3 separate regions of the Homo sapiens genome follow, and regions 2 and 3 are each linked to region 1. Evidence: fine-mapped expression QTL. A gene starts in region 1. Each other region holds a variant in brackets. All regions are shown on one strand. Distances are from middle to middle. Region 1 holds the start of ACKR3 (atypical chemokine receptor 3). Region 2 has its middle 30 kb from the start of DRC11. Region 3 has its middle 23 kb from the start of ACKR3.

Region 1 (2,760 bases):
ACGCAGCCGCTGGCAGTTTTCCTTTCCAGCGTCTCTGGGGAGCCTGGAGATGTCCTTGGTGCCGATGTGACACGAAGAGTGATTGCGCCGCCCTGCAGAGGCGGTGGCGGGACGCTGCGCTCGGGCTGGGAAAGGCCGGCCCCAGGGCGACCCCTCCGGAGGCCCCCGGAGAGCAGGTGTGCACCTCGCCTCCCGCTGGGCAGCCAGTTCAGGAGAAAAATGTGAAGCTTTTAGCTAAACAAAATATTTCTTTCGTTAAGGGCTTTCTCCACACGGAGACTTTCTAGCCACGTGAGACTTTGACCTCCCAGTCCCCCAGATTCAGCGCTGGGACCGAGCGTCTGCTGTTATTTTTAGTAGAAGTATAAAAAGAATCTCGAAAAGTTTTAGCTCTGGAGAAGGCGTGAATACAGCTGGTGCCTTCATACACTCCACTTGAGCCGCTCTTTAAGAACTCCAGGAGATCAGAAAGCAATACGAAAGCCAGAGCATTGCACATGGGATGGGCTGGCGGGTGGCCTTTGGGTCCCTATCTTATGGACGATTTTTGTAAATGGGGCATTGGAGATGAGTATCACCTGGATCACATTTTTAGGTTGAATTCCTCCGTGGGGGGAACTTTAGCAATACGCATCCAAATAAGAATGTAGATTGCAATAATTGTAGTAAAGTGTTTGCCAGACTCATCTCAGAAAAAGACATTATCAAAAGGCATTTATTATCTTCCTAATGCGTGTCTGGCACTGGGCAGACACTGTAGAATACTATCTTGATTAGAGTCTCAAGGATTTTGTACTTAAAGTCCTTTACAAATAAAAGTATTCAAGTATAATCTATTATAAAGACTCTTTTCTCCACTTTGGGGATATACGGTGTGGCATCGATTCATTGGTCATACCAAAACTGTTACTTCTGTTTTGGAGGAATTAACAAGGAAAACCCAGGCTTAGTAAATCAACATCGAAGTTCAGAAGTTCAGAGTAATTTGTCTTGGGAACAAAGTCCTCCCTAGAGCGAAGAGGCATTCACAGGAGCTCTTGGTGTTAATGGGATTATTCAAGATATACCTGAGACCAGATAAATATTTGATGATTTTGCCAAGCACTAGGGTTTCTTTGCAGTTTGTCTTTGGCTGACGTTTTCCCCCCGTGGGGTTTGGACTTTGTGGCTTCACCAGATTTTGCAAATGAAAGAAGGCTGGGGTTTCCCAAGAGTACACTTGTGCAGGAAACAACAGACTAGTGAGGTTTACAAGAGGGGGGTGTGTGTGTGTGTGTGTCTGCCTGTGGGATGGGGGTGGCACGGGGGAGAGAGAGATGTGGGTTACAAAGCTGCCATCTAGAGGCTAGAGGCTCCTTTCTGCAGTGTATATAATGCAAGTCTGCAGCCAGCAGAGCTCACAGTTGTTGCAAAGTGCTCAGCACTAAGGGAGCCAGCGCACAGCACAGCCAGGAAGGCGAGCGAGCCCAGCCAGCCCAGCCAGCCCAGCCAGCCCGGAGGTAAGGAAACGGTGCTCGGGCAGCAGCTCTGCTCGGAAAGAAGGCACGGCTTCTGCTCTTAAGCCAAGTGGTCTTTTCAAAGGCCTTCTTTAAAATCGCTCAGATGGGTGCTTTTGAGTCTGCGGGTCTGGTTTCTGAAAACCCAGGCTGCACGCAGCTGCATTGCAAAGTGCTTTTGCTAATTCGGAGGGCTTCACCTTTCTCTTCAGAAAGCAAAGGGCAGTTTTCTTAAGTCACTTGCAGAAGGAAATTTCCATGTGTATTTAGGAATCTGGTGTTTATTTGCTGTGTGGCTATTTAAGCTCCAGTAAGCAGGGGAACTTTGCAAGAACACAGACTATCCATTCTGCCTGACCAATTTGGCATGGGGATTAGCTTGGCACCCACTGTTTACCTGTTTTGCTTCTAGTATATCAGTTTGGAAACAGATAAAATTGGCAGTAAATACGTAATTCCAGAATGATGAACACTTTATTAAGAGGCATCCTTAAATGGAGCAGAAAACTGCTGAGAATCTTTGTGAGTCCAAGATGTATTTGAATTCAGTACTTTGGGGGATTTACCAGAGTCTGTAAGTCCGGAAGCTATAAACGTGAATGTTAAACACAGCCCGGTCTTCTCTTCTCTTGATGGCACGCTTGCTAATCTAATTTGAGTATTGTTCTCTTAGAAGGTGTTAAGTCCAACTTCAATTGGGGTTGGGGGAAGCACACACACAAATCTACTATTTTGCAATTTAAATATACTCTTCAGGTAAAATGTGGATTTTGTTCAATTTTGTTGGCATGTGCAAAGATTCAAGGAGTGACTGAGAGAACTTTGGAGTGAGGTCAGGGATGGGTGGTTAGCCAAGACTTGTAACTTCCAGGGAGAATGAGAAGTTGTAAAAGTCAGACTGGCTGTCTCTCTTTCTCTCTTCCTCTTTCTTTCTTTCTTTCTTTCCTTTTGCTCACAACAGGATTACTTAGTGTTTCAAAAGTGGGAGAGAGCCTCCTTAAATGGTTTACAGCCCTTTGAATGTATTTGGTGCAGTGACATCCCCTGAAACTTCAGTCTGCAAAGTCTCAACATGGTAACTTTGTTCTTTTCTTTTTTAAAGGCAGATGCTGCTTTTAGTGTCCCTTTATTTATTCCAGGAAAAATGTGGACATCAGCTAGGCACGCCTAGCAAAGAAAGTGGAGGCTGCTGGTTTCTGTGCTTTAACTTTCCATAGATTTTAAATGGATAAACTGCTTGCCCTTCTTTCATCAGAATATGAGC
Region 2 (2,760 bases), 33 kb before region 1:
CTGGTCCTCTCTCTCCTCCCATTCTCTACCTCATGATAGGCCCCAGTGGAGTAGGGGACCTTCTGAGTCCTGAGTCACAGCAGCTTTTATAAAGACAGGTTTTTCTTGGTGTCCGGTAGGCTCCCCTAGCTGGGCCAGCAGAGGGAGGTGGGTGCAGAGGATGGTGGGGAGGGCAGTGGGAGGAAAGGGAGACAGACAAGAGCAAGGGCTCCTGCTGGAGACTGGGTTCCTCCCAGGTATTAGGCCTAGCATGATGGGGTTTGTTCGGGGAGCTCATATCAGGGAACAGGAGCAGGGCTGAGAGAGTGAAGTGGGGAGAAGGGCAAGGTCTTCCACAGTGCTTCCTCAGGCTGGCCGCCACTGTGGGCTGCCGGATCCCATCCACTGGGCACTGAGGAGCTGGGGGGGACTTGCCTCTCAGAGTGGTCTGCCTGAGGACAGAAGGAGGAGCCGTCATCCAGTACATGCCTTCCCTTGGTCCAGGGCTGCCACACAGAGTCATTCCCAGGCTGTGTGGGCACCATGCGTGTGTCATAGAAAAGGTGCCCACAGGTACCTCCTGCAGGAAGCTTGTTGCTGCCACAGTGGCTGGAGTAAAAGGTGGGATGAGAAGCCGTGACGTTGAGTTCAAGCAGAGAGCTCTGTGATATGACGGGAACAAGAAAGGCTTCTGCACTGTTCATGAACTTGGTTGTAGCTTGTGGGTAACCCATGTCTTTCTATCTGGGGGAGGGAACATTGATCACCTTCAATTCCTGGGTTTCTGCTAGATGACCTGATTCCGGGGGAAGGTACCAGCTTTGGGAGTCAAGAAAAGCAACTCACCTAACGTATCTATCTGAGTCTTAGTCTTCTCACCTGTAAAATGGGAATAATAATTTATTTCCTATCTCCTGGGTATTGTGAGTTAATAGGGAATTACAATAATAAATTTCCAAAGGAAATGCCTTGCAGTGTGTAAATCCCTCTGCAGGTGTGAAGTGAAACTAATAGTGAAACACAGACGCATGTGAACTGTCGGCAGTTATGACAGCTGGCCCCTTGAGGGTTCTAGGTGCCTAGAGACTGTCTGGCACTTTTATATGCATAATATCATCTCATCCTCCTTGCAGCTCCTATGGCAGTCACTGTTATTATTCCCATTTACAGATGAGGACACAGAAACTCAGAGAGAGCAAGGG[C/T]CTTGCCCTGGGCCCTGCAGGAAGTGGTATTGGGAGGCTCCACGCTGCCTGTCTGCATTGCAGAAGCTCAGCCCCTTTCCTGCCCCAAATCTCTCACCACTGCTTGGTTAAACACGGTGTTACCTGGCTGTGTAGCACTGTGGCAAGCGGTCTACTAATCCTGATTGGATTCTAGGAATACCAGCAATGGGATGGCTGCCACCTGCTGACAGGGAGAATGGAGGAGGCCAAGGTCAAGCCCAGGGGCAGCCTGCCTTGGTCCTAAGTGTGAGCGGCTGGTGGAGATGAGCCAGGAGGAGGCAGAAGCTGGTAAGGAGGCTGGTTTTGCCTAGTACAAGGATTGTTACCAGGGCTCCATGAATAGGCTTGGGGCAGTGTCTCAGCCTCTCGAATGGCCTGTAAATGTATGGGCCCATGGGTGCATATGCTTTTTTCTAGGAAGCAGGTTCATCATTTTTATTAGTGTCATAATAATCCATGACCCTGAAGTTTGAACAGCAGTTCTCCATTGGGCCACCCTGGCATAAATGCAAGTGGTACAGGGCCCCTTGGATATCTCTGTACACATTGAGACCTGGACAACTTGTCCTTCTGAATGGCTTAAATCCCAAGAATTTTGCCTCTTTACGTGGCTGCTTTAATTTTATGTTTTTACCTTTTTGCTACTATTACTTATGAGCCAGAATTAGGAATTTTCCAAGAACTGGAGGGAGGGAAAATGTGTCCCAGCTTCATCACCCACGTGCTCTCTTCCACCGCCTTTACTTTTGTCTGCATTTTCTCCAAAAGGGTTAATGTTCTTATCAAATTCAGTTTTCTTTCTTTCACTAATGCGTATTCATGCTCTTTCAAGCAAGCAAGCAAATGTGCTTCTATTAGGCAATCAGTTCTGCAGATTACATTTTTTTAGTTGCTAGGCTAGAAAAATAAAAATAACCTAATAAGAAAGTGTTTATGTTGGAAGTAGGTATTCCAAAAAGAATAGTTCTTTTAAAAATAATTCCCCAAACAACTCTTAACAGGTCTTGATTCAAAGAGGTTTTGTTTTCTTTTTTTTTTCTAGCGTGAAAAGCAATATACATAAGCCAGATCCTTTCCTTGGGCAGCGTGGTTAATACTAGCACACATCACACCTGGTATTTGACTTCTCAGAAACTTGCTAAAAACCTTGTGTGGCCATAATCCCTGACTTGATTAACTGTTATTGAGTGTGTTCTGCAAAGTAACAGGAGCTTTAGATGTCTCCTGAAAAGAAAAGCAGAACAGACACAGATTGCCGAAATGAAACAGCAACACAGTGATGATATATTTTCACAACTTGAAATACTAAAAACGTGGTCAAAAGGATCCATCCGAGTCAGAGATTGGGCTCTGTCTGTGGCCACAGCGGAAGCCAGGTGCTGTGGGCTCACCACCCTGACCTTGGATGGATGGCAAGACTTGCCACCCCCACCCTCCTACTGAGGAGTCCCTTGGAGAAATCAATGGCAAAACTGGCCCCAAGCATGGAAAGGGGCTGCAGTTCTAAGGTGGACCGGGGCAGAGCTTGCTTTCTGTCTTCTGAGAAGTGGCTGGGGTA
Region 3 (2,760 bases), 23 kb before region 1:
ATATTAGGGCTCCGGGGAAGAATGAGTGTATCAAATCGTCAATAAAAGTGTGGCAGACGGACAAAATCAACTTTCAGTGCTGCACTTTACAACTTGGTTATGAAACACTACGATTTCATGGTATATGACACGGAATCTCTTCTATCTGGGGATGTAAAATAAAACCCCTGGGAATATACTTTACAGTTCTTATGGGGAGAGCTCACTGTGTTTTCCAAGCCAAATAAATTTATATTATTAGAAAGAGAAGTCATGTTTATTTATTAAATTATTTGCCTGGTTTAGTGTATCATTGTTGAATTTCACACACCGAAAACATACGGCGTAATGAGAATTGAAAAGCCCCAACTTTAAAGTCTGCGAGAAAGGAAATGAAGTTGTGGACAGCTGTTCTCTGTTTCTCAGCACGACTACAAAGGAGGGGCCACGTTTCACCACTGTAAGTTTTGCTTCCTTTTCAGAGACTCATTGCATGTATTCCTGGAGAAAATACAGGACCACGTTTTGTGAGTTGTGAAGCACCAACGATGCGATGTTTTGCTCCCGTACCAGAATTTTCTTTCTAACGATTCTTGGTCCCAGGAGAAGCTAGATAATTAGCTAAGTTTGTTGAATTTGTGATAGGAAGATGATTTTTTACATCGTTGTAGGCACAATGGGTACTTTGATGACAGGTGTGCCCCTGGGGGAAAAGGACCTCTTTGAGGCCTCCTTCTGGAAGGACGGCTTCTCAGGGCCCACTCACTGACACACACCTCTTGACTTCAGTGATCAATGAAGTTCCCCCTCTGTCTCTCTGAGTCCATCTCTCTCCACAAGGGCAGGGCTAGTTCACATTGTGATTTTTACTACATAGATACTTTTCCACTATAAATTTAATAAAATTTGTTGTCAGTTTTTGGTGGTTATAATGATAAATTAAATTTACAGGTATCAGAGTGTGCTCTGAGATTTAAATTGTAACATCCAAAGATGAGCAGACAGCCAGTCACCGTGGAGAGGGCGCTCAGGCCTGCCAGACGTGACCACCCTCCTGCCTGAAGCTTTACTCACTACAGGAAGAGAGGGTTGGAGAACCTGGGCAGCAGAGAGTGCGCAGAGCACCAGAGGCAAACAGATGTGGGCAGTGCCATCCAGACCCTGCCTGGGGATGGGGAG[C/T]CTCGTTCAGGGGACTGGGCGACCCAGCCCACTGGCAGGAAGGGCAAGGAGGCTGTGTTTCCTGTGACCGTTATGCAGGAGGCTCACTTAGCCCACTTCCTTTGCTCTGAATCCACCCCAGTGAAAGCATGTTCTCACTATGTTTTGGCTTCTCTCTAAGAGCTGCCTACAGGGAGAGAAAGGGGCTGGCCTTGGAGGTGGTTGTTCCCACTGTAAATCAATGCAGCATTGGCCCTGTGACTTTTGTCTTCCCCTGAACAGTACATCCTCTCTTGTCGGGCTTCAGCAGCATTGACTCTAGAGTCAGAGAGTTGGAGGTTGGTGGAGACTTCTTATTCCACCTGTCTTAGATGGCATCCATCACCCCTGTCCATAGACACACATTGTCATGATGACAGGTGGTTGTGAGACCTCAGCAATAATGATTCTAGAAACTGCAGAAAACCTAGTACAGTGTGAAGAAGGAAATAAAAGTTGCCCAGAGCCTCTTTATAGAGAGCTAATGACTGTTTACAAATATTATTCTTGTTTTTTTCTTCTTGCTTTTTAACATATTTCAAGTCCTACAGTATAAAAGTGTTAGTATACTTATGGAAGTTCAGGTCCTAACTGAGAAATGTTCTTTAGAGAGGCAAATTTATCTCTAGGCTTATCTGTCAAAGAATGTATATTCTTTATACACAAAAGAATAGGCTCCACAAATATATGTATAAAGTTGGTTTGGATTTACCGACAAGCAGATTATTTTCTTTGTTCACGTTTCCTTCTTGCATATCAGACCATTTTTTTCCTGAGACCATTTTATTCCTTTAAGTAGTGGAACCTTTTGAGAAGTTCCTTTAAGGAAGCTTTGCTGGCAGAAAACTCAATTTTTTGATAGTTAAAATGTTTTTTAAATTTTTGCACTCATTCTTAATAGGTAATTATCCTGGGCTTACAATTCTAGATTGACAGCTGTGATCTTTCATCATGTTAGAGATATGAATCCACTGATTTCTGGCTTCCATTTTTGCAGCTGAAAAGTCATATTTCAATCTAATTGCCTATTCTTTGTGCAGTCTGCCTTTTCTCCAGGCTGCTTTTAAGATCTTCCCTCTTATCTTTCATTCATTTTTTTTTTTTTTACAGCGTATCTGGGTGCTAGCTCTTCCAATGCCTTCTGCCTGAGATTTGTTGTGCTTCCTGAATCTGAGGATTTGTGTCTTTCATCAATTTGGAAAACTCAGAGGAGCCACTTTCCCTGATTGTTGTGTCATCCCATTCTCTGAAGTCTTTCCTTCTGGAATTGCAATTAGACATATCTTCCACATTCCCACTGGCCTTTCCTAGTTTTCATTTCTCCTTCCCATTTCCCATGTCTATGTTTTTTTCTACATTCTAATGTTGCAGTCTGTATCTGATAATTTTAATAACTATAGTTTTACAGGTTTGATCCTGCTGTTTGTTGTTCCTGCTTAATTCTCATAGTATCTTGGGTTTTTTCATGTATTTTATGATTTAATTTTTTTTCTTATGAACTCATGATCAGTGGTATTCAGGGAATGGTTTGAGGCCTAGGTTGAGAATGCCTCTCCCAGAAAGCATGTGTGTTTGTTTCAATCT

The links.
Region 2: its variant is fine-mapped to the expression of ACKR3 in whole blood (INTERVAL, PIP above 0.99). The same link has a PIP of 0.9 or more in T cells and blood mononuclear cells.
Region 3: its variant is fine-mapped to the expression of ACKR3 in blood mononuclear cells (TOPMed, PIP 0.99).

What each region holds. Positions count from the first base shown.
Region 1 is chr2:236,568,426-236,571,185 of GRCh38, forward strand. It overlaps ACKR3 (atypical chemokine receptor 3), which reads left to right and starts at 1,400. Exons shown (of 2, transcript NM_020311.3): 1 at 1,400-1,499. RefSeq lists an enhancer at 1-636.
Region 2 is chr2:236,535,858-236,538,617 of GRCh38, forward strand. It overlaps a transcript of ACKR3 not described here. Among named protein-coding and RNA genes, the nearest start is that of DRC11, 30 kb to the left of the region's middle. RefSeq lists enhancers at 1,034-1,253, 2,357-2,406. The variant C/T (reference allele first, on the strand shown) is at 1,182.
Region 3 is chr2:236,545,571-236,548,330 of GRCh38, forward strand. It overlaps a transcript of ACKR3 not described here. Among named protein-coding and RNA genes, the nearest start is that of ACKR3, 23 kb to the right of the region's middle. RefSeq lists an enhancer at 803-852. The variant C/T (reference allele first, on the strand shown) is at 1,159.